Linked DNA regions of Homo sapiens: regions 1 and 3 are each linked to region 2. The links come from fine-mapping of genetic effects on gene expression. A gene starts in region 2. Each other region holds a variant in brackets. All regions are shown on one strand. Distances are from middle to middle.

Region 1 (10,266 bases), 54 kb after region 2:
CCTCACCCTCTCCAGGACAATCTCTTCACTTCATGAGCACCCATGAAGACGCACCATGAAGGAGCCATTCACTGAGTATTTACCAGGCCCTCTTCAGTATGCAGGGCACACTACGGTGAGCAAGACAGCTGTGGGCCCGCCCTCACTGAACTCACCACCTATGGGGATGTTCCATTACAAATTGCTGGGGAGGCCAGGCACGATGGCTCACACCCATAATCCCAGCACGTTGGGAGGCAAAAGCAGGTGGATCACTTGAGCTCAGGAGTTCAAGACCAGCCTGGGGAAAATGGTGACAACCAGTCTCTACAAAAAATACAAAAATTAGCCAGGCATGGAGGCGCACACCTGTAGGCCCAGCAACTTGTAGGACTGAGGCGAGAGGATCACTTGAGCCCAGGAGGTCAAGGCTACAGTGAGCCATGTTCATATCACTGCACTTCCGTCTGGGAGACAAAGTGAGACCCTGTCTCAAAAAAAAAAAAATTGCTGAGGAATGCTGTGAGGGAAATTAGAGGGACTTACAGAGCACGTAGCAAGGGACCTGACTCCATGTGAAAGAACTCAAGTGCACCAGCCTGGCCAACATGGTGAAACCGCATCTCTACTGAAAAATACAAATATTAGCCGGGCATGGTGGCGCATGCCTGTAATCCCAGTTACTCAGGAGGCGGAGGTTGCAATGAGCCAAGATCGCACCATTGCACTCCAGTCTGGGAGACAGAGCAAGACTCTATCTCAAAATCACAAAAAAAAAAAAAAAGAAAAGAAAAGAAACTCGGCCAGGCGCGGTGTCTCACGCTTGTAATCCCAGCACTTTGGGAGGCCAAGGCAGGCAGATCACAAGGTCAAGAGATCGAGACCATCCTGGCCAACACGGTGAAACCCTGTCTCTACTAAAAATACAAAAAAATTAGCCGGGCATGGTGGCAGGCACCTGTAGTCCCAGCTACTCCGGAGGCTAAGGCAGAAGAATGGTGTGAACCTGGGAGGCAGAGCTTGCAGTGAGCCAAGATCACACCACTGCACTCCAGCCTGGGTGACAGAGCCAGACTCCATCTCAAAAAAAAAAAAAAAAGAAAGAAACTCTTTGGGCTGGGCGTGGTGCCTCAGGCCTATAATCCCAGCAATTTGGGAGGCCGAGGCAGGTGGATCACCTGAGGTCAGGAGTTCGAGACCACCATGGCGAACGTGGTGAAACCCCATCTCTAGTAAAAATACAAAAATTAGCCAGGCGTGGTGGCAGGCACCTGTAGTCCCAGCTACTCAGGAGGCTGAGGCAGGAGAATCGCTTGAACCCTGGAGGCGGAGGTTGCAGTGAGCCAAGATTGCACCATTGCACTCCAGCCTGGGCAACAAGAGTCAGAGACTCTGTCTCAAAAAAAAAAAAAAAAAAAGATTTGGGTCTCTGAGTCCTGGGCTATTTTCCCTCTCCTTGTGAAGCATTGGTCTTCCTCCTCTGCAAAAGGATAACCATCATGGGATGTGGCAGTGGGCTGACTTCCTGGGAAGGCTAAGCTCAGTGCCTGCACAGTAGATGTTCATGAACAGGGTCTTAGTATAACCGTCCTTTTCTCCAAACCCAGCTTTACCAGGAGTCTCAGCACAGACATGCCAAATTGCTTGGGTGTGAATCCTGGGGGAGCCAGTGACCAGCTAGGTCACCTTAATACAGGCTGCAACAAGTAGTTATTACATAGCAGCTGTGGTGTCATCATCACTATAATAGCATCTCCTGGAGCATTTGCTAAAATGCAGGTGTGAGCCCCAGACCTCAGGAAGCAGAGTCTCTGGGAGTAGGACCAAACCAGGAAGTTGCTTTTTGAACCTGGTGACCTAGGTGATTCAGATGCTGCCAGCCAAACCCCTGGGAACCCTTGAAGCCCTGCCTACTTGAGTTTCTTAGTTTTCTTGCATTCCCTCTCGGGAGGAGCAACCCTTGTCTGGGAGTTAGGAGCCCTGGGTTCAGGCCCAGCCACTGACTTGCTATGGTCCTGGACCAGTCACTGTCCTTCAGTCCAGCCCAGAAGGGGTTTGGGGTGCTGGGCACGGCCCTGAGGCAGTGCCGTGCCCAGCATGGCTTCACCAGCCTGTGTCCTCTCATAGCCTGCCCTCCTATACCTGGTCCCCGCCTGCATCGGTTTTCCTGTCCTGGTGGCGCTGGCCAAGGGAGAAGTGACAGAGATGTTCAGGTAAGGCAGAGTGGGGGGCAGATGTCCTCATGGGCACCAGTGTGCCTGCTGGCAGTCAGTGGAACCTGCTGGGGGTATCTTTACACCTCTCCAGGGGAACATTGTTCCTGCCACCAGCCCCACCCCTTGCCTTTTTCAGCAGTACATGGGTACCTGGCCTGTGGACACCAGTGGGAACCTTACCCTGGGCCAGGAGCCAGGGGAGCGCAAGGCATCAGAGCCCTCTAGGCATCCCCCATCCAAATGTTAGCTGGATCTTAAGAATAGCTGTTGTGGATTTTTCTCTGCCTACTGTCAGAAGTCCTAGGTGACTCTGCCCCCAGGTGACTTCAGGCATGTCTTCCCCTCCCATGGCCTCAGTTTTCACATGTGAGTAATAGAACAGGGGGCGTGTGGGATGCCCTAGTGTGGTAGAAAGTGCCCCGAGTAGAAGGCAGGTGTCAGTCCCTGTTCATTCACCTCTGTGGCTTTAACCCACAGCTCACTGCTTTCTCTATATCTGTATCTCACACAGATACCCCTTCCCCAGGGCCATATCCACACCTACCACACCCTGCACACAGCCCCACCCATACCGCAAGGCCTGCGTGACTCCAACAGGTGTCTGCCCCCAGCACTGCCGACCCTGCCTGCCAGGGACCTAGAAATAGCTGTCAGTTGCGATTAAAGCTGCCTACTCGGGTGCCTTCCGCCCAGTTCCACCTGCCTGGCCTCCAAGCTGTCCCTAGAGCGCTTGCCAGGGCCTCCTGTGCACCTGGCTCCCCGCAGGGGAGCCTGTGACTCACCCCTCCCCCGGACCTGCCTCTGCCCTCCCTGTCCTGTCTAGAATCCCCAGCCCCCCGCCTGCCTGCCCACATTGCCTCGCCCAGCAAAGCTCTGTGGTCTGAGGCAAGTGGGGGCTAGGGGTGAACTTGGGGACAGGTCTCAGGGAGCTTTGGGAGCAGGCATGGCACCCGATCCCTGAGCTTAGCACCCATCCTTCACCCTCCCTCTGCTTCCCATCCAGCCCAGGTTTCCCTGCCCCTCCCCTTGGGGTAACCACCCAATGCTATTGTGCCCTCATCAGGCAAAGCTCTGAATACACAAGGCAGAGGGTGCCCCTGGCCTTTACCTGCTTGGTGCTAAATGCTCTGCCATACAGGTACCCTGCCCCCACTGTTTGCCCTCCACTCCCACCCTGGACATTCTTAGATTGGGGTAAAAAGCAAGTGATCTCTCTCTCTCTCTCTCTCCCTCCTTTCTCCCCATTTCTCTCCCAATTCTCCACCTTTTTACTTTTCCCTTCTATTCTCCTCCTTTTTTTATTGATTTACTTATTTTTATATTGGTACCACATTCACATAGTTAAAAATTCCAAAGCTGTAACAGAGAGAGCACCCTCATGCTCCAGCTACCCCACAGAGGCCAGCAGTGTTACACAGACATTCAGACACCTGTGCACTGATGTGTGTATACTTTTTCTTGCACAGACGGTGGCATTCTTGGAGCATTCTGCACATTGGGTTTCTACGGTATTTCTTAGAGGTGTTTCCACAGCAGCACATACACTTCTAGAGCATGCTTGTTCTTCTGCACAGTGGCCTGATGTGCCTTTGTCTAGGTGCATCTTTCTTTTTTCATTCTCCAAATAATATCAGCTTCTTTCCATAAAATCTGGAAGTGCAAAAATAGGTAAAAACAAGACAGTTCTGCTCTCTGCTCCTTGGAAAGGAAGTCTCTGTCCTCCCTTAGTCTTTCCCTATCCATCTCTTTTTTTCTGTCTCTTCTCTCTCTCTCACACAGCTACGAGTCCTCGGCGGAAATCCTGCCTCATACCCCGAGGCTCACCCACTTCCCCACAGTCTCGGGCTCCCCAGCCAGCCTGGCCGACTCCATGCAGCAGAAGCTAGCTGGCCCTCGCCGCCGGCGCCCGCAGAATCCCAGCGCCATGTAATGCCCAGCGGGTGCCCACCTGCCCGCTTCCCCCTACTGCCCCGGGGCCCAAGGTAGGGCAGACACTGCAGCTCCAGTGCATAGGGCAGGGACCATTGCCAGGAGTAGGCCGCAAGAGCAGCTCCTCCACAACCACCAGGCAGTGGTTGCACCGAGCCATAGGGCTGGGAAGCAGGACAACCCCGAAGCTTCCTGCCCTCACCAGTAATGCGGGGCCCACATCATAGTGGATGGAAATGGCCCTTGTCATGCAGTAGTAGATACTGTTACCATTCAAGGTATATGTATAACCTTAGGCAAGTTACTTTCTTCATCTGTAAGTGGGCACATTCCTGCCTCACGGGGTTTATCTGGTGAGGAAAGATTTGTATTATCTTTGGCATGAACTCAGTTGCTTGAAAAATGAAGCCCATAGAAGAAGCTAAGCCAGGGTGTCTGTCTTCAGAGCAGCACCTTGCCGCTTGCCAGTACAGCAGTGCCCTCACCTCTGGGGCTGAGCTGTTTGATTCATGCTGTGTGCCCTGGGAGGCAGCCTATCTCCATCTCTTGTAGCCTTGTCATGGCCACCCCTTTTTCCACGCTACAGCAGAAGGTTCAGGAAGCTTGAAATCAGCCCACACAAGCCCAGGCCCAACCTCTCTTCCATTGGCTGCTGCCCTTGCTGCCTCCTGGTACCCCCAGGCTCAGAGAAAGCAGAGCAGCCTGCCTGAGGAGGGCATGTGGTAGGGCTGGGGCCAGGCGCTGTTAGGTGCTGGGCAGTGGACACAGGGCTGACGCTCTGCATGTGACCAGGCGCTTTCCTAGGATGGGGGTGGGGGAAGGGGACAACCAAGGTTCTGCTCACCCTCTCCTCTAAATGAATTTTTATTGTTG[T/G]TTTTTTTTTTTTGGTCAGTTATGAGGAGTCAAATCCTAAGGATCCAGCGGCAGTGACAGAATCCAAAGAGGGAACAGAGGCATCAGCATCGAAGGGGCTGGAGAAGAAAGAGAAATGATGCAGCTGGTGCCCGAGCCTCTCAGGGCCAGACCAGACAGATGGGGGCTGGGCCCACACAGGCGTGCACCGGTAGAGGGCACAGGAGGCCAAGGGCAGCTCCAGGACAGGGCAGGGGGCAGCAGGATACCTCCAGCCAGGCCTCTGTGGCCTCTGTTTCCTTCTCCCTTTCTTGGCCCTCCTCTGCTCCTCCCCACACCCTGCAGGCAAAAGAAACCCCCAGCTTCCCCCCTCCCCGGGAGCCAGGTGGGAAAAGTGGGTGTGATTTTTAGATTTTGTATTGTGGACTGATTTTGCCTCACATTAAAAACTCATCCCATGGCCAGGGCGGGCCACTGTGCTCCTGGAAGATTCTCTGTTTAAGCACCCAGTGTCTTGCCCTGGGTTTTCTAGGTCTCACCTGCCCACCCAAAATCTTTTCTGCAAGCCCCTTAAGGGTGCCCACCCCAGTGCCTGGCCAGCCCTGCACCCGTAAAACACCTTTTAGCCAGTAGAGGGGGCCCACGAGCCCTCTCTCACCAGCTAGCACTTTTCTCACCACCTTCCTCGAAATACTTGGGGGCAGCAAGGGTGTTGGCAGATGAGAGTCTCCCACTCACCATGGTGAGAGTGGTGGGGAGTACCCAGGGCTGACCTGACTCACAAGGGAAGCAGTAACTGTAGAACCTGCCAGCCTCCCTGGTCCCTGTGCCCATATGGCTTCGGCTGATGAGGGCTCAGACTCTAGGTTGCCCTGAAGATCAAGGCTTTGTCTCCCATTCTGCCCATTCCTGGGTTTCTTCCCAAAATGACTACTGTGGGGCCAGTCATGGCACAAGGGCCAGGACCTCTAGAGGCTGGGGTGGGGAAGGACTGAGCTAGTGATTCTTAGAGGCCTTCTGGGGCCTAAGAGCTGAAATCTCAGCGCCCGGGTTTCCCTAAAGTTTGCTGAAGACAGCAGCCCCGGCCAGCAGGAGACCGACCGGGCACCACCCCAAACCAGGCAAACGGTGGCCACAACCCTCATCCACCCACCTGGTATGAGGTCACTGAGTGGGGAAACAGACAGGAGCGGGTGGCCACCATACTGACAGACCCGGGGCTCTCCCTTGCCCAAGCTTCAGGTTCAAAGGCTGAAAATAACAGTGGCTTCCAGTTTGGAAGTGGCCAAAGGACAATCATGACCAGAGACTCAGGAGTATGACTGTAATACCCTCACTAGGTATTGACATGCACTAAGCACCTTGATATAGGATTTCACTTCCTTCTGAGTCTTGGGCTGTATGTGCTATTATTCGCTCCGCTGTGCAGATGAGGGAATTGAGGCAGCTTGCCCATGGACATCGATTTGACCTTAGCCAAGCCAAACAATTCCAGGTTCCTAAGGACCGCAGCTCCTCCCCAGACCCCTGGGACCAAGTCACTGGCTGGTGTGCTGGGCATCCCTGAGCCCCAGCCACCCAATTTTACTGGCTCCAGGGTTCTATAGGAAGGAAAAGGGGTAGAAAATTTCAAAAGGCTTCTTCCTTTCAGGGAGGGGGGTTCCCTTTCAGGGGCTTCTGGAATCTCTACCCACTCCAGCCAACTCTGAGGCCATGTGGTCCTGGAACAAGGCCCCTCTGAGGCAGATGGGGCAGGCGGCCCAGGCACATAGCATGGTTGGCTCTGCGGCCCAGGGCGCACAAAGGCCTTATTGAGTCACCACCAGCCCCCGGCAGAGGCTGAGGTGGCAGTGGCGCCGAGCGCCTGCCACCTAATGACTGTCCTGGTCCAGCCAGATGTTCCACAGACCTCCGGAGCAGCGGACTAGGGCCCGCCCGGCCAGCCGGCACCGCAGAGGCCACTGTAATTCCAATTAACCAGCTTCAGCTGAGCAAACAGCGGGCAGTGGTGGCCCAGCCCAGGCGGTAGGCCTGGCCCGCAGAGCCTGCGAGTCTAGACTCCAGATGTGAACCGCCACCATCAGAGTCCCATGGAAAAATGGCACCAGGCCGGGCAAGGATTGGGCCTGCATGCTGGGGAGGGGGTGTGGGTGGTTGGGCAGGGCCCCGAGTGGGCTAGATGCCAGCCTCACCTGGTTTGGGGTGGATTATTAGGAAACTGCTCTAGAACCCAAGTTCTACCCTGCTTTATTAGATTCTGTTTCTGTGCCTCAGTCTCCCATGACTGCGACAAGAGAGAGGGTTCCAAGGGGAAAACCAGCCCTGCTGAGACCCCAGTGTGCACTGACTGTATTTCACGTGACTAGCATTATGCTAGTGCAACTGACCCTTGAACAACACAGGGATTAGGGGCACCAACCCATCATGGTCGAAAATCTGTATAACTTTTCAGTCCCGCAAAACAACTAATAGTCTGCTGTTGACCAGAAGCCTTACCTGATAACATAAACAGTCAAAACATCTTGTATGTTATACGTACTACACTGTCTACCATAGAGTAAGCTAGAGAAAATGTAATTAAGAAAATCCTAAGAGCCAGGCATGGTGGCTCATGCCTGTAATCCCAGCATTTTGGGAGGCCAAGATGGGCAGATCAGGAGGTCAGGAGATCGAGACCATCCTGGCTAACATGGTGAAACCCCCGTTTCTACTAAAAATACAAAAAATTAGCCGGGCATGATGGCAGGCGCCTGTAGTCTCAGCTACTCGGGAGGCTGAGGCAGGAGAATGGCCTGAACCCGGGAGGCAGAGCTTGCAGTAAGCCGAGAGAGGCAGGCGGATCACAAAGTCAGGAGTTCGAGACCAGCCTGGCCAATATGGTGAAACCCCGACTCTACTAAAAATACAAAAATTAGCCTGGCATGGTGGCAGGCGACTGTAGTCCCAGCTACTCAGGAGGCTGAGGTGGGAGAATCACTTGAACCCAAGAGGCGGAGGTTGCAGTGAGCCAAGATTGCACCACCGCACTCCAGCCTGGGGGACAGAGTGAGACTCCGTCTCAAAAAAAAAAAAATTATTCAGTGAAAGTGGATCATCATAAATAAAGATCTTCATCCTGGTCTCTGTGTTGAGGAAGAGGAGGGGGTTGGTCTTGGTGTCTCAGGGGTGGCAGAGGTAGAAAAAAAGTCCACGTTTAAGTGCACCTGCACAATTGAAACCCGTGTTCAAGTTTCAAATGTATCTTAAGATTTACTTAATCGTTGTAACAACACTTTGAGGTACCTACATCATTCTTACGATGGGGAAACTGAGGCAGAGACCGTAAGGGCGGGCCCAGGGGGCATGTGAACCCAGAGTGTCTGGCTTCCAAGACTCGTATTCACCGTGGTGCCGTTTGACATGATCAGGATAATGGATCCCTGGTTCCTTTTGGGGGCAGCATTGGAGAAGGGGGTTTGGCACCGTCAGTCTGACAGCAGGGCTGGCTCCTGCAGTGTGAATGAAGCGGTCTTGTGCTCGACTGTGAAGGGGGGTTAGGACCTGCTTCCCAGGGCGGGTCCAGCTTTCTGAGGGAAAGCCTTCAGAGCCTCCATCAGGCCGGCACCAGGTACCAGTTAAGCACTGGGCAGGGAACAGAAGTGGTCAAACGCCGCTTGCCGCGACTTGAAACTGCTGAATAAATGGATAATGTCAAGCGCTATGGCTTAGGGCAGTAGTACCTCCGGTTCCTACGATCGTGTCTGGGGTCCCTGAGGAGCAAGGCAAGAGTCGGCCATTCAGGAGGTCAGAGTTCAGCTGTTCTTGCACAAGCAGGGAAGCTGAGTCACCCCAAACACGGGCAAGACTAGCGGTGGTATCAAATGGCTATCAGGGGCGGGGCCTCAGGGGCCTGCCCCTGCCTCCCCGCCCTGCGTTTGGATTCCCTCCAGCATTCCGGGCCAGGGCGCGGGAGGCGGAGGCCGAGGAGAGGACGGGAGGAGGCTGCATCCTGCCCTGGTGCGTCAGGAAGGGCCGAGCGAGCGGGAAGGAAAGCACCACCCCCCACCCCCGCCGCGGCCACACCTGGGTTCTCCAGGCGGGCAGGGGGGCCCCCGGGCCGGCGCCTGGCTCCAGCAAGTCTGGGCCGCCTCCCCGCGCCGCCCCGCGGGGGCCGCCAGATGGGCTGCCCGCCCGCCAGCTCAGCGACGCAGGCAGGAAACGCCGGCCGGGCTGCCAGGAACGCGCGCAGGGGAGGGGGCGGGCCCGGCCGGGCCACGCCCGCCGGAGGGGAAGGAGGGGCCAAGCACCGCCCGGCGGGGACTGGTGAGCTCCAAGAGCCTGCGATCCCGGTCCCTGCCTTTACTAGATGGGTTTCCTTGGGTAGGTCGTTTTACTTCTCTGTGCCTCACTTTCCCTACCTGTAAAGCGGGGCTGCCTGTCTCCGCTCTTTTTCCCTTTTCTCTTTTATTTGTGCAGCAGGGTTTCACTCTGTCGCCCAGGCTGAAGTGCAGTGGCGCGATCACGGCCCACTGCAACCTCGACCTCCTGGGCTCAAGCGATCCTCCCACCTCAGGTGGGAATATAGGTGTGTCCCACCACGCCTGGCTTTTTTTTTTTTCCCCTAGTTGAAACGGCGGTTCTCACTCTTGCTCAGGCTGGTCTCGAACTCAGGCTCAAGCAATCTTCCCACCTCGGCCTCCCAAAGTGCTGGGATTAGAGGCGTGAGCCACCGCGCCGTGCCTCAGCTATTTTCGTGTGACCGTGTGATCTCAGGACACTTTCTTTCCCTTCTCTTCCTTGGTTTTCTTACCTGAAAAATGGGGTGAACAATTGAACCTCCCTCAACCATGGGCTAAGCCTTTGTTTTCCTCTCCACCGTAGCCCCAACACTTGGCCCATTGCCTGAAACATGAAGGCACTCAGTATTTGTTGTAAGAGTGACTATAAAGGTTTGGGACAATCCTGAGGGCCTGGCTACAGCAGGCACTTCATAAATGGACACAAATTATCAAATTACCTAGAGTCTAATGTTTACCAACCTGCGGCTTCAGGCAAGTGACTTCCCATCTCTGAGCTTCACTTTCCTCGTCTACATAATGGCTGTGAGGATTAAGTAAAATAAATAAATACATGGAAATCACACATAGTGTGTTCTCAATAGATATTTATGGAAGAGTCTCCAAAATATTAAAAAAAGGGAGATACTATTTTGAGTAAATTTGAGGGCAAGGAATATACAAAGGAGTTAGGTGGCTTGGAAGAAGATTTTTGCTATATATGTAAACTAAGCTGTGTGTGGGTGGGTATTTTG
Region 2 (10,266 bases):
AAAATAAGATACAGGCCAGGCGTGGTGGCTCACACCTGTAATCCCAGCACTTTGGGAGGCCGAGGCGGGTGGATCATGAGGTCAGGAGATCAAGACCATCCTGGCTAACACGGTGAAACCCCGTCTCTACTAAAAATACAAAAAAAAAAAAAAATTAGCCGGGCACGGTGGCGGGTGCCTGTAGTCCCAGCTACTTGGGAGGCTGAGGCAGGAGAATGGCATGAACCCGGGAGGCGGAACTTGCAGTGAGCTGAGATCATGCCACTGCACTCCAGCCTGGGCGAAAGAACGAGACTCCATCTCAAAATAAAATATAAGATCCACATCTTGGTTGGGCGTGGTGGCTCACGCCTGTAATCCCAGCACTTTGGAAGGCCGAGACGGGCAGATCACGAGGTCAGGAGTTTGAGACCAGCCTGACCAACATGGTGAAACCCCATCTCTACTAAAAACACAAAAATTAGCCGGGCGTGATGGCGGGTGCCTGTTGTCCCAGCTACTCAGGAGGCTGAGGCAGGAAAATTGCTTGAGCCCGGGACACAGAGGTTGCAGTGAGCCAAGATCACACTACTGCACTCCAGCCTGGGTGACAGAACAAAACGCCATCTCAAAAAAAAAGATAAGATCCACATCTAATTTTATTGACACAGAAAATGTCAAGAACCCCAAATTTGGTTGGTTTGAAGAACATGTGAAGGGTTTGACTAGATGATGAATGTCAATATTAAATCAGCTGAAGTTTCATATACAAAATGAAGAGGAACAGCATTCAAACTTAGTTAAGACACAATTTCCTTGAGTGGCCAGGCATGGTAGTCATGCCTGTAATCCCAGCACTTTGGGAGGCCAAGGTGAGCAGATCGCTTGAGCCCAGGAATTCAAGACCAGCCTGGGCAACATGGTGAAACCCCATCTCTATAAAAAATGGAAAAATTAGCTGGGCATGGTGGTATATGCCTATAGTCCCAGCTACTCGGGAGGCTGAAGTGGGAGGGTCGCTTGAGCCCAGGAGGTCAAGGCTGCAGTGAGCTGTGATCATGCCATTGTGTTCCAGCCTGGGTGACAGAGTGAAAATGTGCCTTGAAATAAAATTTTCCTTTGAATACGGCTTAAGAAATATGGCCACTTAAAACTCTACCTTGAAAATAAATATAGATTTTATCTTATCTAGAGGTAGAGTGGGAAGTTTTCATTTGGTACATTAAATCTATAAGGCCATAAACAGGTAATATAAAAAGCTTTCATAATTCAATTTATATATAACATGAGAAGGAACTTCCAGGTGTTACTATGAATCTTCTATGTATAGTTACAGTCAATATACTTTATATAAGAGATAATTTTAATACCAATATAATCTAGATAACATTTTACTTTGTTATGTTATCATTGTTCTCTTGGGGAATAAATTTTTTCCTCTGAGGCTCTGGATTTGACATTGAATTTTGTGTGTACTAATTGACATGTGCCAGGGCAATGATGGACTGGAATCCACCCCCAAATCAAAGCATCATGGTAAATCTTGCTTATCCTTATAAAGTCAAATGATAGACATTTCCCATCACCTATTTCTATTCAACAAGAGCACCAGATTCAGTTAGCTAATCTGCTTCCAAAGAGTAGAACTGCATTGAGCTCAAATAATTTCAAAATACTGACTTTTTTTTATTTATTTATTTATTTTTTAGATGTGGTCTTGCTATGTTGCCCGGGCTGGTCTCTAACTCCTGGGCTCACACGATCCACCCACCTCGGCCTCCCAGCATGCTGGGATTACAGGCGTGAACCACCATACCCAGCCTATTTCTGCGTATGTTAAACATGCTTTACAATTTTAAAAATGAACTGTTTTGAAGGTAAAATTACAAATCTTGAAATTAAAAAAGCAAATATGTAAAGGAGCAAAAACTATAAATCAAACATTTGAGAAGAGAAAATTGGAGGCTAACTTGTATTAAATTCACAAAAACTTCTATACTTTCTGTAAATACTTTTTTAAAAAACTATAGATCAGAGGCTAGGCGCAGTGGTTCACGCCTGTAATCCTAGCACTTTGGGAGGCCGAGGCGAGTGGATCACTGAGGTCAGGCGTTCGAGACCAGCCTGACCAACATGGAGAAACCCCATCTCTACTGAAAATACAAAATTAACTGGGCGTGGTGACGCATGCCTGTAATCCCAGCTACTCGGGAGGCTGAGGCAGGAGAATCGCTTGAACCAGGGAGGCAGAGGTTGTGGTGAGCCGAGATTGCGCCATTGCACTCCAGCCTGAGCAAAAAGAGCAAAACTCAGTCTCACAACAAACAAAAAAACTATAGATCAGAATAACCACCTTTAGAACACTTTCGGTTATCAGTCAATATTTTTAGATAGAAGCTGGTAGTAAGCCTAAAGTGGGCTTAATTCTGCAGTAAACAACTGCCTCAACACATAGAAATCTTTTTTAAAATAGGCACTCTTGGCCGGGCGCGGTGGCTCATGCCTGTAATCCCAGCACTTTGGGAGGCCGAGGCGGGCGGATCACGAGGTCAGGAGATCGAGACCATCCTGGCTAACACGGTGAAACCCTGACTCTACTAAAAATACCAAAAATTAGCCGAGCGTGGTGGCGGGTGCGTGTAGTCCTAGCTACTCGGGAGGCTGAGGCAGGAGAATGGCGTGAACCCGGAAGCTGGAGGTTGCAGTGAGCCGAAATCGTGCCACTGCACTCCAGCCTGGGTGACATAGCAAGACTCCATCTCAAAAAAAAAAATAAAAAATAAATAAAATAAAATAAAATAGGCACTCTTGCGGGAGGTGGCAGCTCATGCCTATAATTGCAGAACTTTGGGAGGCCGAAGTGGGCAGATTGCTTGAGCCCAGGAGTTTGAGACCAGCCTGGGCAACATGCCGAAACCCCATCTCTACTAAAAACACAAAAAGTTAGCCGGGCGTGGTGGCACACACCTGTGGTCCCAGCTACTGGGGAGGCTGAGGTGGGAGAATCACCCAAGCCCAGAAGGTAGAGGCTGCAGTGAGCTGTGATCATGCCACTGCACTCCAGCCTGGGTGACAGAGTGAGACCCTGTCTCAAAATAATAATAATAATAATAATAATAATAGGCCCTCCTTGAAGTTTTTTGTTTGCACAGTCACACAGTGATGCTTAGATGTTCCAGTATCTAATATAGCCACAGTAGGCTGCAAGCAGTGGCTCATACCTGTAATCCCAACACTTTAGGAGGCTGAGGCAGGAGGATCACTTGAACCTAGGAGTTTGAGACCAGCCTGGCCAACATGGCAAAACCCCATGTCTAAGAAAATATATATTTTTAACTTTTTTAACAATATCAAAAATAAGAATCACATAAATAAACAGATTCTTCAAATTCTGAAAAGAGCCACAAAGCTTTATAAATTGTACAGGGGCATGAACTCGTAAGGTATTATAATTGCCTGGCACATAGTAGGCTCTCAATACATTTGCAAACTCCACACACACCTTACTTTCTTTTGCTTTATTTTTCTCTATTTATCTGCATTAACATGCTATGTAACACATAACTATACATTAACGTTTTACAAATTACAAATTTTTCTTGTTTTTTTTTTTTTTTTTTTTGAGACAGAGTCTCACTCTGTCGCCCAGGCTGGAGTGCAGTGGGCTCACTGCAACCTCCGCCTCCCAGGTTCAAGCCAGTCTCCTGCCTCAGCCTCCCAAGTAGCTGGGATTGTAGGCGCCCGCCACCACGCCCGGCTAATTTTTTATATTTTTAGTACAGACGGGGTTTCACCGTGTTAGCCAGGATGGTCTCGATCTCCTGACCTCGCAATCTGCCCACCTCGGCCTCCCAAAGTGCTGGGATTACAGGCGTGAGCCACCGCGCCTGGCCTTTTTTTTTTTTTTTTTTTTTTTTTTTTTCAGACGGAGTTTCGCTCTTGTTGCCCAGGCTGGAGTGCAATGGCTCAGTCTTGGCTCACTGCAACCTCCGCCTCCCGGGTTCAGGCGATTCTCCTGCCTCAGCCTCCCGAGTAGCTGGGATTACAGGTGCGTGCCACCACGCCCGGCTAATTGTTTGTATTTTTAGTGCAGACGGGGTTTCACCATATTGGTCAGGCTGGTCTCGAACTCGTGACGTCAGGTGATCCACCCGCCTCGGCCTCCTAGAGTGCTGGGATTACAGGCGTGAGCCACTGCGCCCAGCCCATTTTACAGACTTTTATTTTGTTCAGTTTCTTTATTGTCTTCCCAACGTCCCCCCACACACACTGCACTAAAATGCAAACTTCACGAAGGCAAGGAGGAACTTTTGCCTGTATTGTTCACCTCAGTGTCCCCAGAGCCTAGGTCAGTTGTTGGCATATTGAGGGACATTCAATAAATATTTAAGGAGTGAATAAACAATTGGATACCCAATAAATGCATGTATGAATAAACACATTCTTAGTTATTCGGAATATGAGGATTTGCGGAGAGTGGACAGCAGGGGATTGAGGAGACCGGCTGGGACTGGGAAATGGGCATTCGGGTCGCATGCCCACCGCAGTGGCCCAGAGCCCCTGTCCGGACCGCTAACAAGTTGCTTAGCAACCCGCCGCCCGGCCCTCGGCCACCGCTAGAGGGCGAGCGGGCGGGGAGACGTGCACGCGCGCGCGCGTGCGTGCAAGCGTGTGTGCGCGCGTGCGCGGCGCGGGCTTGGGAGGGAGCACGTCACTTCCTGTTGCCTTAGGGGAACGTGGCTTTCCCTGCAGAGCCGGTGTCTCCGCCTGCGTCCCTGCTGCAGCAACCGGAGCTGGAGTCGGATCCCGAACGCACCCTCGCCATGGACTCGGCCCTCAGCGATCCGCATAACGGCAGTGCCGAGGCAGGCGGCCCCACCAACAGCACTACGCGGCCGCCTTCCACGCCCGAGGGCATCGCGCTGGCCTACGGCAGCCTCCTGCTCATGGCGCTGCTGCCCATCTTCTTCGGCGCCCTGCGCTCCGTACGCTGCGCCCGCGGCAAGGTAGGGTCAGCGGGAAAACCGGGCACTTTCCACCCCCATACCGAACACGGCCGACATGGACCCTTCCTAGGCGGGACAGACACCTCTCCCCGGACACTGACTCTTCCCAGCCCTGATCACCACCGTTCCCTCTGTCTCGGGCCCACATTCCGGGGCTGGCATTTCCTACCCCGGGATCTGGGCACCGACCCCCGACCAGGGTATGATACCTTCCCCAATAGGAACTTGCTTCTGCTCCCGACCCGGACCCTGACACTTCCCTCCCTGTGCATCATGCCGCGGCTGGGAACGCTGTCAGCCCGTCCCCCACTGCGACTCGGGCACTGATTGTTCTGAGCCTGTTGGGCCCAGGCAGATCAGCCCCATCATGTATACCTGATGGATACTGGTCCTCACAACTTACTGAATGGTACAATTTCGTGTCATTCCCTGTTAGGAACCCTGCCTCAGCCCACCGCAGGGCCCTTTCTACCATCCAGACCCATCCCTAGACTCTGACTCCTGTCTCACTGGAATCTATGGCACCTTATGTGCTCACCTAGATCCCCCACACCTGGCCCTTGCCCCTGCCTCAAAAACAATGATCTCTTAGAGCCCAGTTTTTCACATCACTTTCTGGAACCATCCCAGTCAGCTGGCTCCTCAGAAGCTGGCATCTTGGTGCCTCTACTTTCCAACTAGGCATGGACGTCTTATTTTCCTGGTTTCCTCTCTTAACTACCATCCAACCTTGGACATGGCCTAGTCAAAACCTAGACCTTGTTCCTAACCTGTAACCCTTTTCCCACCCAGCCTTTGACCCTATCTCAAAGTAGCCCTTCTCCCCATACCCCCAAGACAATCCCCCCACCAAACTGGGCCTGTCTGCTGGGCCACTGTTGGCCCCTCTTGTGAGACTGGGCCAGACTCCATCCCTGGCCTTCCTCAACATCTGTCCTATTGGATAACTAGGAGGACTCCAGCACATTTCACCTTCTGCTTCTCCCTCCCCCTTCCCTGCCCCACTTCTTCCCTATATTAAGCCCTTTCTAGCCCGTTGTACCAATGACTTTTCACTTCCTGGCACCCTCTCCCTTCCTCCACAACCTCTTAATCTGCACCTTCCCGATGCTCCTCCCCCACCCAGACCTGAGGATGGACCTAAGTGGAAGTCTTGCCCAAAGAGGGCAGGCCCACAAAGCAGCTGCCACTTTTGAAACTGCTGAAGCTGAGGTTCTCAAAACACTACCCAACTTGAGCAGTAGCTGAGGCCTGCCATCTTCCTTCCCCAGGAGCAGAGAACTCACTACTGGCTCTGTATGCGATCAGATGCAAAGGAAAGTAGTTAGGCGGGGCTTAGGCTGAGAGACTCAAACATGACTCCATTTTCCTTTTTATTTGGCTTTTTCTAAGCTGAGTTCAGGTGATATTAAGCCTCTCTACTATGCCTGTCAGGTAGACACTTAGTGTAGAGAGCAGTTCTGAGATAACCCAGGACAGAGGAGGCGAAGGACAGCTGGCATAAGGCTAGGCAGCTTGATCTGAGCTGCTCTCCAAACTGAGTAATTCTCCCTGGCACCTTCTGTACATGGATCACTAATCTCTGCAGAAAACACCTTCCAGGCAACAGTATTTCCTGAACTTCCACCACTGTCAGGGGTAAGGGAGGATTGCTGCAAAGATGAGTAGGTCAGAGCCCTGTCACCAAGGAATTCGGGAGCGTAGGTGAAAGAATAATAACTAGATTGTGATTATACTACAAGCAATGCTACAAGGTTTAGGGAGAAAGATTGAGCACATCTGGGACAATGCAGGGAGGCTTTGTGCTAGAGGTAGGCCTGAGCCTTGACGTAGAGGTAGAATTTCAGCCAGGAGAAGGCATTCTAAGCAAAAGAAACCAGGTAAGCAGAGAGAGGTACGGAGGCAGGAGGCTACGAGGCAGTTCAGGAAATAGTGGAAGGTTTGGTGTGGCTGGAACAGAGGGTATGGATAGGAGAAAGCCTTAGCCTCTGAATACCTCTCCCAAGCATCTCCTGCAGGGCAGCAGGGTGTGGAGGACTGTATGAATTTACAAACAGGACCTGACCATTAAGAGCCTGCCACCACCAATGACCCAGATGCGGTAAAGCTTGCAAAACCTTGACGCCCTTTGATGCTCACAGCAACTGAGGTGGCAGGCAGAGCCAGTTTCATTATCCTCATTGTACAGGAAAAGAAACTGAGAGTCAAAGAAATGACTTCTGAAGATCACTCTGCCATTTAGGGGCAGAATCAGGTATGCCTAGTCCTCATCCAGGGCTCTCTCCTAACACAGGTACCTTTAAAGACAAGCAGCATTGACCTAGGGAAAGGACAGGGCAAATGACTCCCCTTCTACCCTGAGTCGTTTCCCTGGTCATGTGAAAAGGAGAGAGAAGAGTTAGTGTGGGGACCCAGTTTTGATTTCCCACCAGTGTTGGACCCCAAAACCAGTTGGGAGAGAGGGAATGTGAGGACAGAATCCCCAAGGGTCAAGGTGTCCATAACAGGCAGGGAAAATTGTGAAATCATGGAGAGAAAGAAGGTAGAGCCTCCAGGAGTATGTTGTGAAGAAGTAGCCTTGGGAGGAGCAGTCTCAGAGCAGCACCCATCACTGTCAGAGTCCTATATCCCAGACAGAAGCGAATATGACCCAGGCAGTAGCTGCACATTAAACATTGGTTTAAAGGGCCCTCAGCGAACAGGACTGGGTGCCTGCTGTGGGCTAGGCTCTGGGCTGGGTACCAGGAGTTCCGGGACAAAGAAGGCCAAGCCCTGCCCTCACTGAGCCCAGTCACCAAGGAGAAACAGACATGTGACTAGTCAAGTAAATAGAGCTCTGATAGGCCTCCTGGAGGGGGCAGCAGTTGTCTCTGCATGGATTGGGAGAGTCCAACAGGCAGAGCAGGAGAAGGTGGGGCAGGGGACCACAAGATGTGTTCAGGGAGGCAGTGAAGAGTGTGGTGTGAGCCCAGGAGAGGGGCTTGGATGTAGTGACAAGATGTTCAGGAAGCCCGTGGCCTTTCTGGGGAAGAGAATCCTGAAAGCAATGCAGCGGTTAATCGTATTGTTACAAAAATACTATACACTTGTTAAAAAAAAAAAAAATCAAGCAGTGCAGAAGTATAAAGGAAAAGCCTCCTGGGCACTATTCCTTGGAAGTAACCCAACTGGCTGTTGAGTATATAACCTTTGAGAGTTTTTTCTGTGTTTACACATTCATTGTATATGTGTCTGTGTATATAGACATGTAAATTTATTTTTATAAAAATTGGATTATATAGTACATATTTCTCTACAACTTGATTTTTTTTTTTTTTTGAGATGGAGTTTCACTCTTGTTGCCCGGGCTGGAGTGCAATGGCGTGATCTTGGCTCATTGCAACTTCTGCCTCCCAGGTTCAAGCAATTCTCCTGCCTCAGCCTCCCATGTAGCTGGGATTACAGGCTGGCACCACCACGCCTGGCTAATTTTGTATTTTTAGTAGAGACGGGATTTCTCCATGTTGGTCAGGCTGGTCTCAAACTCCCGACCTCAGGTGATCCACCCTCCTCGGCCTCCCAAAGTGCTGGGACTACAGGCATGAGCCACCGCGCCCAGCAATTTTTTTTTTTTCTTTAACAATATGTTGGCCAGGCACAGTGGCTCATGCCTGTAATCCCAGCACTTTTGGGAGGCCGAGGCAGGTGGATCACTTGAAGTCAGGAGTTCAAGACCAGCCTGGCCAACATGGTGAAGCCCCATCTCTACTAAAAATACAAAAATTAGCTTTGTGTGGTGGGGCACGCCTGTAATCCCAGCTACTCGGGAGGCTGAGGCACAAGAATCGCTTGAACCCGGGAGGCACAGGTTGCAATGAGCCGAGATCATGCCACTGCACTCCAGCCTGGTCGACAGAGTGAGACTCCATCTCAAAAATAATAATAATAATAATATGTTTCATTATTTTTCTATGTCAGTACATATAGACCTAAAGTTAACCAGACATGATGGCATGCACCTGTAGTCCTAGCTACTCTGGAGGTTGAGGCGAGAGGATAACTTGAGCCCAGGAGTTCAAGGCTGCAGTGAGCCCTGATTGCACCACTGGGCAACAGTGAGACCCTGTCTCAAAAAATATATACATATATATATAGAGAGAGAGAGAGAGAGATCTACCTCATCTTTTATGGTGGGGAGGGTAGGTAATACATGCCCATGGTACAGAATTCAAAAGGTACAAAGGGGTGCACAGTGAAAGTCTCCCTGCTACCCCAAGCTGCCCTATTTCCCTCCTCAGAGGCAGCCCCTCTCCTGTGTTTCTTAGATATCCATCCAGAAAGATTCTGTGTCTTTACAAATAAATAGGCATATACTTTTCCCTGATTTTTTTTGTTGTTGTTTTAATGAGACCGAGTCTCACTCTGTCACCCAGGCTGGAGTGCAATGGCATAACCTCAGCTCACTGCACGCTCCATCTCTTGGGTTCAAGCGATTCTTCTGCCTCAGCCTCCCGAGTAGCTGGGATTGCAGGCACCTGCCATCATGCCTGGCTAATTTTTGTATTTTTGCAGAGATGGGGTTTCACCAGGTTGTCCAGGCTGGTCCTGAACTCCTGACCTCAGGTGATCCACCCGCCTTGGCCTCCCAAAGTGCTGGGATTACAGGCGTGAGCCACCACGCCTGGCCAGTACACTCTTCCTTGCACCTTGCTTTTTTCACCTAATGTGTGTTGCAGATCCAATCATGTCAGTACATAGGGGGTGGGTGTGTTCTTTAACAGCTGTATGGTATCCCACTTGTACTCCAGTTTGCTTAGAATGCTAGTTCTCTAGTATCTGGTCCCTGGGCCAGCAGTGTCAGCATCACCCCAGAACTTGTTAGAAATGCACATTCTGAATCAGAAGCTCAAGGTGGGCCCAGCAATGTGTGTTTTAACAAGCCCACCTGGTGATTCTGATGCATGCTCAAATTTGAGAATTTGAGTCCCCAACTGGTCATTTAGGTTGTTTCAGTCTTTTGCTATTACAAACCATGCTGAAATTAATAACATTATACATTTTTATTTCACACTTGTCTGTGTATTTGTGGGATAAATTTCTCAAAATTGGTGGGTCGAAGGCTATGCACACTTTTTTTTTTTTTTTTTTTGAGACAGTCTCGCTCTGTTGCCCAGGCTGAGTGTGAGTGCGGTGGTGCCATCTCAGCTCACTGCAACCTCTGCCTCCTGGGTTCAAGCAATTCTCCCACCTCAGCCTCTTGAGTAGCTGGGATTACAGGATTACAGGCGCGCACCCACCACAC
Region 3 (10,266 bases), 43 kb after region 2:
GACCAACATGGTGAAACCCTGTCTCTACTAAAAATACAAAAATTAGCCAGGCATGGTGGCGCATGCCTGTAATTTCAGCTACTCAGGGGGCTGAGGCAGGAGAATCACTTGAACCCGGGAGGCAGAGGTTGCAGTGAGCCGATATTGCGCCACTGGACTCCAGCCTGGGCAACAGAGCGAGACTCCATCTCAAAAAAAAAAAAAAAAAAATGTTGGCCAGAGCTGACCCCCTACCTGCAAGTAAGGAATTCAAGGAACAGGATTTTCCTGATTGGCTTAGTCTTGCACCACACTTATCACCTGGGAAGGCTGCCTAACACAAAACCAGGACTGGATTAGTAAAGAAGGCATGAGGTAGCAGTTAACTGTGTACAAATCATCTAATCTTCACTATCACCCTGAGGGGTCAGTTCTGTTGTCTACCCGTTTCACAGGTGACAAAACTAAGGCAGGTAAGTAACCTGTGCAGAGCACAGAACTAGGATTCAGACCTACAGACCCACAAGTCAGCCTCTAAGGCCCACTTATAACTGCTCTTCTGCTTGCAAGGCCCTATGGATGAAATCCAGTTATAACCTCCTTTTGCTATAACTAGACACAGAGGGAGGCGTTTCTCCCTAATCTGTATTTATCCAGACAAGCTGTCCAGCAAGATTTCTGAGTGAGGGGCTTTAAGGAAGCAATCTGCGGGTGTGTAGCCTTTTCTCCCTCAGCAAATACAGAAGGAGCTTATAGCCCGGGCTCACCCTGCTTCAGAACAAGGGCCAACATCTGTCCATACCCCTGTTATAGTGAGATGGGAAACCTTGTAGATGTTGGCACTGTGTGGCTCTTTTCTTTTATATACTGGGCTTTAGGGTCAATCCCATTTAACCAAAGGGTTCAATAGCTATAAAAAGGCGTTGAAATTGTATGGTTATTTGAGTTATAGCTCAGTAAAGGCATTAAATCTTCAGCCTAGATGACCCTATTCCTCCCCACTCTAACCAGCTGTGACTCCAGATGGAGACATTGCCCTGCATCCTCTCACGTCCCCATCCCCCACATCCCACCCAGAAACAAATGTGTGAGTTTCATACAACAAGAATGGGGGGTTAGGAGTCAAAGTAAGCTGGGAATACAAAAATGGGGCGGGCGTCTAAAATCCCAGCTACTCAGGAGGCAGGAGAATCACTTGAGCCTAGGAGACAGAGGTTGCAGTGAGCCAAGATCGTGCCACTGCACTCCCGATTACAGTCCTCATTGCCCTGGGCAATAGAGCAAGCCCCGTCTCAAAAAAAAAAAAAATACAAAGTAGGCCGGGAGCGGTGGCTCACGCCTGTAACTCCAGCACTTTGGGAGGTCGAGGCGGGAGGATCACGAGGTCAGGAGATCAAGACCATCCTGGCTAACACGGTGAAACCCCGTCTCTACTAAAAATACAAAAAATTAGCTGGGTGCGGTGGTGGGCGCCTGTAGTTCCAGCTACTTGGGAGGCTGAGGCGGGAGAATGGCATGAACCCAGGAGATGGAGCTTGCAGTGAGCCGAGATTGCGCCACTGCACTCCAGCCTGGGTGACAGTGCGAGACTCCGTCTCAAAAAAAAAAAAAAATGTAAACTGGGCTCCAGCTGACTCCTCACATTCCCGCCTCCCGCTTCAGTGGTGTTTCCCCAGGATCTGCTGGAGAAAGGCCTCGAAGCAAACAACTTTGCCATGCTGGGACTTGGAGATGTCGTCATTCCAGGTGAGCCTGCTGGTGTGGGGGCTATGTGAAAGGGGTGGAGAGGGTATTCCCCGGAGCAAGGGGATTACTGCTAAACAGACAGGCTTACCAGCTGAGAAAGAGAAAAGGTAAGGCTGGATCAGGCCAGGGATTGGTGAAGGGTTCCCCCTTAACATCCGTTTACGGAGGGCCAGTCAGGTGCCATGCCCCAAGCTGGGTCCTGGTCAGGTGTCAGTGAACAAGACTGTCTTCACAGAGCCTCTGGTCTAGGTGAGCAGATGTTGCTCAAGAACTACAAAAGTAAAAGTCTAATGACAGATTGAGGTACACTCTGAAAAAGCACGTTTCATGACAATCTTAACAGACTGGACCCCTGTCACACACACCCACACATACACATACCCCTTCCCAGCATCTGCAAGCATCACAGATGTACCAGAATTGCCCTAGCCCCCTTGCTCCTCCTCCCTGTGCCAAGACATCTCCAGGGAGAACACACACATGGGCTCCTGTCTGCACTCTCAGCAGAGGAGCATGTGCGTGCACACCTGCTTATCTGCAGAGGCTGGCCTTTGAGCCCCTGGATCTGCGTGTGGGTTCTAGTCAGTGTGTCTGTGGGTATGGACACGGGCCCTGTCCACAATCCAAGCAGGATAGCACATCCTGCGCAACCACAGCCTGGCCTCACTTTGGGGCAGGAGCAGCTCAAACTACCAGTCAGGAAAGAGACTAAGGGCAAAGCTGAGCTGCTGAAGTGGCTGAGGCTCGGGTGTGTCTGCTTATCTGGGCCCAGTTGTGGGGGCAGTGAACCCAAGGGACATACTTGTCTTCCTAGCCTCAGAGTGAGAGGGTTAGAAGCTTGCTTAAAAGAAGGTTTTAGCTGGGCACAGTGGCTCACACCTGTAATTCCAACACTTTGGGAAGCTGCGTGGGGAAGATCACTTGATGCCAGGAGTTCAAGACCAGTCTGGACAACATAGCAAGACCTCATCTCTACAAAAAAAAAAAAAAATTAGCCAGTCGTGGTGGCTCATGCCTGTAGTCCCAGCTACTCTGGAGGCTGAGGTAGGAGGATCGTTTGAGCCCAGGAGTTCAAGGCTGCAGTGAGCTATGATTGTGCCACTGCACTTCAGCTTGGGTGACAGAGTGAGACCCTGTCTCTTAAAGAAGGAGGTCTGGCCTGGGCAAATTGTGAGACCATATATATATATAAAATTATTATTTCTCCTTTTTTTTTTTTTTTGAGACGGAGTTTTGCTCTTGCCCAGGCTGGAGTGCAATAACGCGATCTCGGCTCACTGCAACCTCTGCCTCCCTGGTTCAAGCGATTCTCGATTCTCCTGCCTCAGCCTCCCAAGTAGCTGGGATTATAGGCATGCACCACCACGCCCGGCTGATTTTGTATATTTAGTAGAGATGGAGTTTCTTCATGTTGGTCAGGCTGGTCTCAAACTCCCGACCTCAGGTGATCCACCTACCTCGGCCCCCACAAAGTGCTGAGATTACAGGCATGAGCCACCACGCCTGGCCGACCCCGTCTATATTTTTTAAAAGAAGAGGAATTATTTTAAAGCAGCAGATTAAAGGCTGACTTACTTTCCAGGGTAGGATATTATAGCAATTCTGATCACCTAGGGTGATACAGGCACTTCTATTTGTGACAGTTGCATTTTGTGACACATGGAGGTGACACAGAGGCTTTCCCTGTTTTACCAGTGAGGAAACTGAAGCTCAGAAGTAAAGGGAATGATACAAATTCACACACTAGTAAGCAACAGGGCCAGGACTCAGACCAGCACTGTCCAACTGCAAAAAAGGCTACGCTGTCAGAACTGCTCCTTACAGCAGCACTAGCAGTAATAAGACGGTAATCACAACAGCTACCATTTATCAAGCACCTGTCGTGTACCAAGAATGGTGCTAGGTGGCCGGCCGGGCACGGTGGCTTAAGCCTGTAATCCCAGCACTTTGGGAGGCTGAGGCGGGTGGATCATGAGGTCAGGAGATCGAGACCATCCTGGCTAACATGGTGAAACCCCGTCTCTACTAAAAATACAAAAATTAGCCAGGCGTAGTGGCGGGCGCGTGTAGTCCCAGCTACTCGGGAGGCTGAGGCAGGAGAATGGCATGAACCCGGGAGGTGGAGCTTGCAGTGAGCCAAGATTGCACCACTGCACTCCAGCCTGGGCCACACAGCCAGACTCCATCTCAAAAAAAAAAAAAAAAAGAATGGTGCTAGGTACTTTTTATATGTCATCTTTACTTCTCCCAGCAGTCCAGTGAGATAGAGGGCATTTCCATTTTACAGATAAGGAAACTGAGGTTTGACTTGCCTGAGGCCACGAGGGTATGGGCTTGCACCCATGTGTCTTCATAATTTGCAGTGCTGTGAGGCAGGGAGACTTGCTTCCCCAGTAGAAGGCATCTCTGTCAGACAAAAGAAATGGAGTCCTGTAAAGCATCTGGCTCACTCTTAAGGGCACGGTCTGTCATTCACCCACACAAACTTCCCCTGTGTCCTTGTCATAAGTTCCAGGCTTGAGACAGGCACAGGACATCTCGGCATATCTGTCCTTTCCCCACCCTCTATATATATCCCCAGTAGTCCCGCAATCACAATAAATGTAAGTTGATCACAGTGGAGCGTTGTTTGGAAGGCCAGATGCACTTTAGGAGTGAAAATCCCTGGCAGAGCTCTGACCCCTGGATTAGTTGGAGAACACTCGTAGAAATCAGCCGCCAGGGGGCACTGAGTTCCCAGCTTGATTCCAGAATAACTGCAGTTGTCTGCTCTATCCCCAACCAACTCCCTACTCCTACAGAGTATTCATTGAGAACTAATTCATTTCCCTCTTTAAAATTAATCATATGTTGACAGTTGACAGGCAGTGCTTCTTTTTTTTTTTTTTTTTTTTTTTTGAGATGGAGTTTTGCTCTTGTTGCCCAGGCAGTGCAATGGCACAATCTAAGCTCACTGCAACCTCCACCTCCCAGGTTCAAGTGATTCTCCTGCCTCAACCTCCCAAGTAGCTGGGATTACAGGCATGTGCCACCATACCCAGCTAATTTTGTATTTTTAGTAGAGACGGGGTTGCACCATTTTAGTCAGGCTGGTCTTGGAACTCCTGACCTCAGGTGATCCGCCTGCCTCGGCCTCCCAAAGTGCTGGGATTGCAGGCGTGAGCCACCGCACCCGGCCAGGCAGTGCTTCTCAGCGCCTTCCTTCAAGTAAATGAGACTCAGAGCCCAGAGCCCAGTAAGGGAGGCGACACACAGGGTGTGCGTATAGCACAGGGACAGGACTGGTTGGCTGTGTTTTGGGGTTGCTTAGGCTTCCGGGATGTCTCTTTCTTTTTCTTTTTTCTTTTTTAGCAGAACCATTGCTTACAATTGGCTTGGTTTTCAAGTTTCAGAGTGCAGTGGGTGGACCGAGGTAACCCTCTCCTGTGCTCCTGTGGAGCCTTCAAATAGCCCACTGCTTGCCCCTCCTCCTCCCCCCTCCAGCCACGCACTGCCACAGGGGCCTTTTTCAAAATGTGTTTAGGTTGTTCTGCTCAGAACTCCTCCAGTGCGTCTCTTCACTCAGGATAAAGACCCAACTCCTCCCCATGGTCCTCGGGGCCCTGCAGGGCTGGTCTATCTCCTCATCTCCTGCCAGTAGGCAAGCTGCCTTAGTGACCCCTCAGTCCCTGCCACATCTCCTGAGCACTCTTTCTCCAGGACCTTTGCACATGCTGTTC[TCTC/T]CTCCTGGCGTGTGGCATTTCCAAGAAGCCTTCCTTCTTTCCCCTCCTTCACCCCTGCCCAGCCTAGGTCTCATCCTGTTACACCTTCTTACAACATGGGAAGCACAATTCTCCTGCCTCAGCCTCCCAATAGCTAGAATTGCAGGCGTGCACTGCCATGCCCAGCTCATTTTGGGGTTTTTTGTATTTTGAGACAGAGTCTCACTCTGTCGTCCAGGCTGGAGTGCAGTGGCGTGATCTCGGCTCACTGCAACCTCTGCCTCCTGGGTTCAAGCGATTCTCCTGCCTCAGCCTCCCGAGTAGCTGGGACTACAGGTGCCTGCCACCACGTCTGGCTAATTTTTGCTTTTGTTTTTTGTTGTTGTTTTGTTTTGTTTTGTTTTTTTGAGACAGAGTCTCGCTGTGTCACCAGGCTGGAATGCAGTGGCGCGATCTTGGCTCACTGCAACCTCCACTTCCTGGGTTCAAGTGATTCTTGTGCCTCAGCCTCCCGAGTAGCTGGGACTACGGGCACATGCCACTATGTCTGGCTAATTTTTGTATTTTTAGTGAGACGAGGTTTCGCCATGTTGGCCAGGATGGTCTGGAACTCCTGACCTCGTGATCCACCCACCTCTGCCTTCCAAAGTGGAAGCACTCTTTAACAGTCACAATCTCACAATGATTTCCGTGACTATTTGAGGTATGTCATAGTGTGGCTACCCTGTCCCCCTGGCTGAGCTCTGTGGGAGCAGCGATTTTGCCTACTCCTACATTTCCCATAGTGCCTGGTACATAGGCACTTGATAAGCATTTGGGCAGACACGGTGTGACATAGTATGATGCGGTGAGGTGCTGGGTCATTGTAGTCCCAGGCCAAAGCAAAATCCTGGGCCCCTCTCATTGTTCTAGGTAGAGAAATGGGACTTTCTGCTGTCACTTGAGAGTATTGGCCACACCCTTGGTCTCCAATGATTGCTCCAAGATGGAACACCAGGTTGGGGACCAGGACCCAGTCTCCTGTTAGTTCACTGCCCTGCTGCTTCCCTGCCACTCTCTAACCCCAGCTTTCTCCCACAGGGATCTTCATTGCCTTGCTGCTGCGCTTTGACATCAGGTGAGTGAGTGAGGGCCTGCCCCAGCATGGGCTTCTCCAGGGATTCTCCAGTGGCCTTCAGGAGCCCAGAGAAGGTACCTCAGGAGACCAGACCCTCCACCCCCACAGCAGCCAGAGCAATTCTGATTTTATCTGCATTTTGCATCTTGAAGTTCTAAGTATTTGAAGAGCCTGTGGTCAAAAAATTGTTTTAAGAATCATAGGCCAAGAGATTTAAACCCACAAGGGCCTGGTGGTACTCACAGTGCTTTCTCACTGTGTGACCTTGACAAGTGGCCTGACCTTCCTGAGCCTCTGGTTTCTCATCTTGAGTTAATAACAAGAGTTCCTACCATGAAAATCTGGAGAGAGTGCTGAGCACACACTGACCTCAGTCGCTCTTGGTTGAATCCTGGTTGCAGTCATCATCATCATCTTTTATCAGCCTAGCGTCAGGTCACCATGTCTCAGCTGCTCTAGCTGTTCCCTGCCCTCTCTTTACTCAGACATTTTTCAGTCTGTTGTAGACAGTGAGCACGAGGGGGAGAAGGTGGGCAACTTAGGTCAGCGTTTAAAACACAAGAAAGGTCTTATCCAAGTTAATGCACCTATGCAATGGGACTTGCCGTCAGCAGGGGGCGCCAGCAACAGCTCCATCATTTTATGCCCCGTCATCCCTGTGAGGGCTGGCAATGTTGCACTTAACTTTGAGGTGGTTTGTGAACTTCTCTTGATTTCCTCATGCCTGATAGTTGCAAAAGCAGTAATAACAGTGACAGTGGTAATGAGAAACTTACTACCAGCATCATTGAAATCCAGTTTCCATGTGAAACTTAGGTTTTTCCCACTCACATACACCTGGGTTATTTGTGTAGTGCCACTTCAAACCTTAGGAGCATATGGGCTCACAGTCACCTTTGGAAGAGACCTGGCCAGTCTGTAAGTAGAGGGATGTCTGTGCCAGCCGTCTCTACTCCTGGCTGTTCAGAGGTAATACAAAGTGAAACCCATAAGAAGCCCCCAGGCTATTTGCTGGAGACAGATTCAACTGCCAGCACCCTCAGAGACAGAGTCTCATTTTTTAGCCTGGGCTCACAGCATAAGCAGCTCCTCAGCTGATTTCCAGAATCAGTGCAACATTCCCAAAGGGAGTCACTTGTATCCCAGTTCTCAAGATAGGTGAGTTCTCAAGGTACTTGCAGCCGAAGGCTTAGAAGCACCCAGGACAAGGAGAGAAGGGGGTCAGAAGCACTCATTCATTCCACAAATGTTAATTGAGTCCATAGTACTGGCTGGGCACATCCCAGGTGCTGGGGACATGCAGAGGTTACGGAGCTGGCATTGGAGAGGGAAGTCACGTAATGGCAATGCCGGGCTGTATATGATTCATCTGTTCTGAAGCTGATCTTGGATGAATCACCTCCAGGAAGCCACTGGCATTTATTCATGCAGCCAGCATCTAGTTAGTACCACAAATAGGCTATTGAACTATTACGTCCACTGCACTTAAAAGTAGTAACTTATCTTTGCAGTTTCTGTATCTGTGTTTCTCAAAGCATGATCCAACGGTATGAGATTCACCTCAGATGTTTTTTTCAAAATGCAGATTCCTGGGCCCTGCTCTAGAGCTATTAGATCAGACTCCCTGGGGGTGGGACCTAGAATCCTGCATTTTTTCACAAGCTTTCCAGATGATTTTTATGCTGACTAAAGTCTTACAGCCACTGTTATAAGTTGCAGCATTTGATATTCATAACTACCAAGGAGATGAGCTCATTTTCCCATTTTGCAGATGAGTAAACTGAGGCTAAGAGAAGGAAAGCAACTTGTCCAGAGACACATAGCTGGGGGCAGTATCAGCGTGCACACCCACCTCCAGACTCCCAGCCCAGAGCTCAGTCACCCCCCCACAACCTCTAGGGTCTTCCCCAGCTCCCTCAGAAGGGGTATTACTAGTTCAGTCCCTATATCTAACCCTCCTCCTCTTTCTTCACACCTTCCCTGCAGCTTGAAGAAGAATACCCACACCTACTTCTACACCAGCTTTGCAGCCTACATCTTCGGCCTGGGCCTTACCATCTTCATCATGCACATCTTCAAGCATGCTCAGGTGGGCAGGACGGTATCAGAGTGTCAGGAATGCCTCACTGCAAATAGAGGGACTTACAGAGGGATTTATTTGTAAATGCAAGCAGTCCAGAGATAGGCACTCCCCACTGGTGTTGGAGCAGTCATGTCTGTGATTCTCTTGGCCTTCCATTTGTGGTTGCAAGATGGCTGCCACTGCTCTAGGCAGCATGGGCACGTTAGAGGCAAGAAGGAGGGAAAAGCGTAACAGCCATGCCTGCTGCCTTCATCAGGAAGGCAGGAACTTTCCCAGAACCCTTTCAGCATCTCATGGGCCAGACTGGGGTCCTAAAGCCACCCTGGCTACAGGAGAGTCCAGGAAAGAGGATTTGGCTTCTCAGCCTTGGTAGTGGGAAGCAGGCAGAGAAGAACAGGATTGGAGTGGGTGTTGGGTATTGGGGCGTCCCTCCCCCTACTCCCTAGTAGACCAGGCTCTGCCTCCTTCTCCCACCAAGATGAGGATGGAGTACTGAGCTGCCACAGAATGAAGCAACATAGCACAAAGACTGGGAGCCCTCAGTGTGGCCTGGAGAGGGGAAGATTCAGGGGAAAGTGAGCAGACAGGATTGCCCTACTTTCTACTGGAAATAATAAGAGCTCCTGTTTGTTAAGCACTTCCACATGTCAGGCTCTGCACTCATGAGGATCCTTGTGAACAGGTGGGGAAACTGGAGTTCAGGTGACACACTGCAAGTATGTGGTAAAGCCAGGATTCAAACCTGGGTCAGCATGGAAACCACACCCAGGCTCTCAAGCCCTGGCCATGGGAAACGCAGCATTGAACAGGGGCTAAGGGAGCCCTGTTGTGAATCCCAGCACCACCCAGTAACCATGGAACTCTGGGCTTGCTGCTTCTGTCCCCTTTCCCCTTCCCCAGGGCCCAAATACAGACGAGCCATCTTTGAATTAATCACAAAAGCTGGGGTTTTTTTAATCACTCTGTGCCAGGCACTGTGCTAAACTCTTTTGCTAATAACTCATTTAGTCCTAGTACAGTATTACTTTATAGAAGGTCAAAAGGCCCCTAGCCCATAATTAGAAAAACCAAGAACAACCATTGTGGAACTGCCTCTCACTTCTGCTCAAGGGCTTCAATGGCGTGTAAGGTGAGAGTAACATGCGTATGGCAAGGGTCACAGAGAGTGACTGGACCTGGTTTGGAGGACTAGTTAAGAGACCTTTTGGAGGTCTCTGCAGCTCCCGGCCCCTTATTGGAGTCCAAGCCCAGAGCCAATTCCCCCAGTGGCCATAAGGTGGCAGCCTCACCCTCTGCCTGGCTGGACTGAGAAGAGGCTCCCATTCAGAGCTCTGGCACACAGGAGTCCTCTCCTTTATCGGAAAACTGCAGCGCTGAGAGAACGCGAACACTACATCAGGCTGGGCCCTGGGTGGCGATCTGGACTCCAGACTAATGAACTCCTGAACCCTGCCCCAAGGCCTGTGTTACTCCCCAGCAGCAGCCCAGCCCTTCTCCCCAGTCATCCAAGTGGGTACCTCTCTGAAAATCCTTGGAAAGGGGATCCAGGACATGAGGGGACCCTGTCCCATGGGGTCCCCTGCTCTCCAACACACAGGTAGTCCCAGTGCTAGCATTGGTCTAGGTAAGGGTCACCTCTG

Alleles and levels. Positions count from the first base shown, and alleles are read on the strand shown. Sizes are in standard deviations (SD) of each study's normalised expression. Not every link is listed here.
As copies of TCTC replace T in region 3, the expression in whole blood of the gene that starts at base 4,693 in region 2 goes down (moderate effect, 0.52 SD a copy in GTEx).

The links.
Region 1: its variant is fine-mapped to the expression of HM13 in whole blood (TOPMed, PIP above 0.99).
Region 3: its variant is fine-mapped to the expression of HM13 in whole blood (GTEx, PIP above 0.99).

What each region holds. Positions count from the first base shown.
Region 1 is chr20:31,564,104-31,574,369 of GRCh38, forward strand. HM13 (histocompatibility minor 13) reads left to right here. Exons shown (of 13, transcript NM_178581.3): 11 at 2,107-2,192; 12 at 3,975-4,121; 13 at 5,017-5,440. The coding sequence ends at 5,116. HM13-AS1 (HM13 antisense RNA 1) reads right to left here and starts at 9,160. Exons shown (of 3, transcript NR_046853.2): 1 at 9,039-9,160; 2 at 8,696-8,820; 3 at 3,484-3,845. It overlaps LOC107985416 (a long non-coding RNA gene), which reads left to right and starts at 8,907. Exons shown (of 3, transcript XR_005647051.2): 1 at 8,907-9,335. RefSeq lists enhancers at 1,685-2,560, 2,561-3,436, 2,710-2,849, 8,517-9,058 and silencers at 5,503-5,797, 8,860-9,439. The variant T/G (reference allele first, on the strand shown) is at 4,998.
Region 2 is chr20:31,509,750-31,520,015 of GRCh38, forward strand. It overlaps HM13 (histocompatibility minor 13), which reads left to right and starts at 4,693. Exons shown (of 13, transcript NM_178581.3): 1 at 4,693-4,985. The coding sequence starts at 4,803. It also overlaps the pseudogene CD24P3. RefSeq lists a silencer at 5,290-5,359.
Region 3 is chr20:31,553,105-31,563,370 of GRCh38, forward strand. It overlaps HM13 (histocompatibility minor 13), which reads left to right. Exons shown (of 13, transcript NM_178581.3): 8 at 1,642-1,725; 9 at 6,507-6,543; 10 at 8,530-8,632. Among named protein-coding and RNA genes, the nearest start is that of MCTS2, 11 kb to the left of the region's middle. RefSeq lists enhancers at 1,646-2,145, 7,481-8,680. The variant TCTC/T (reference allele first, on the strand shown) is at 5,445.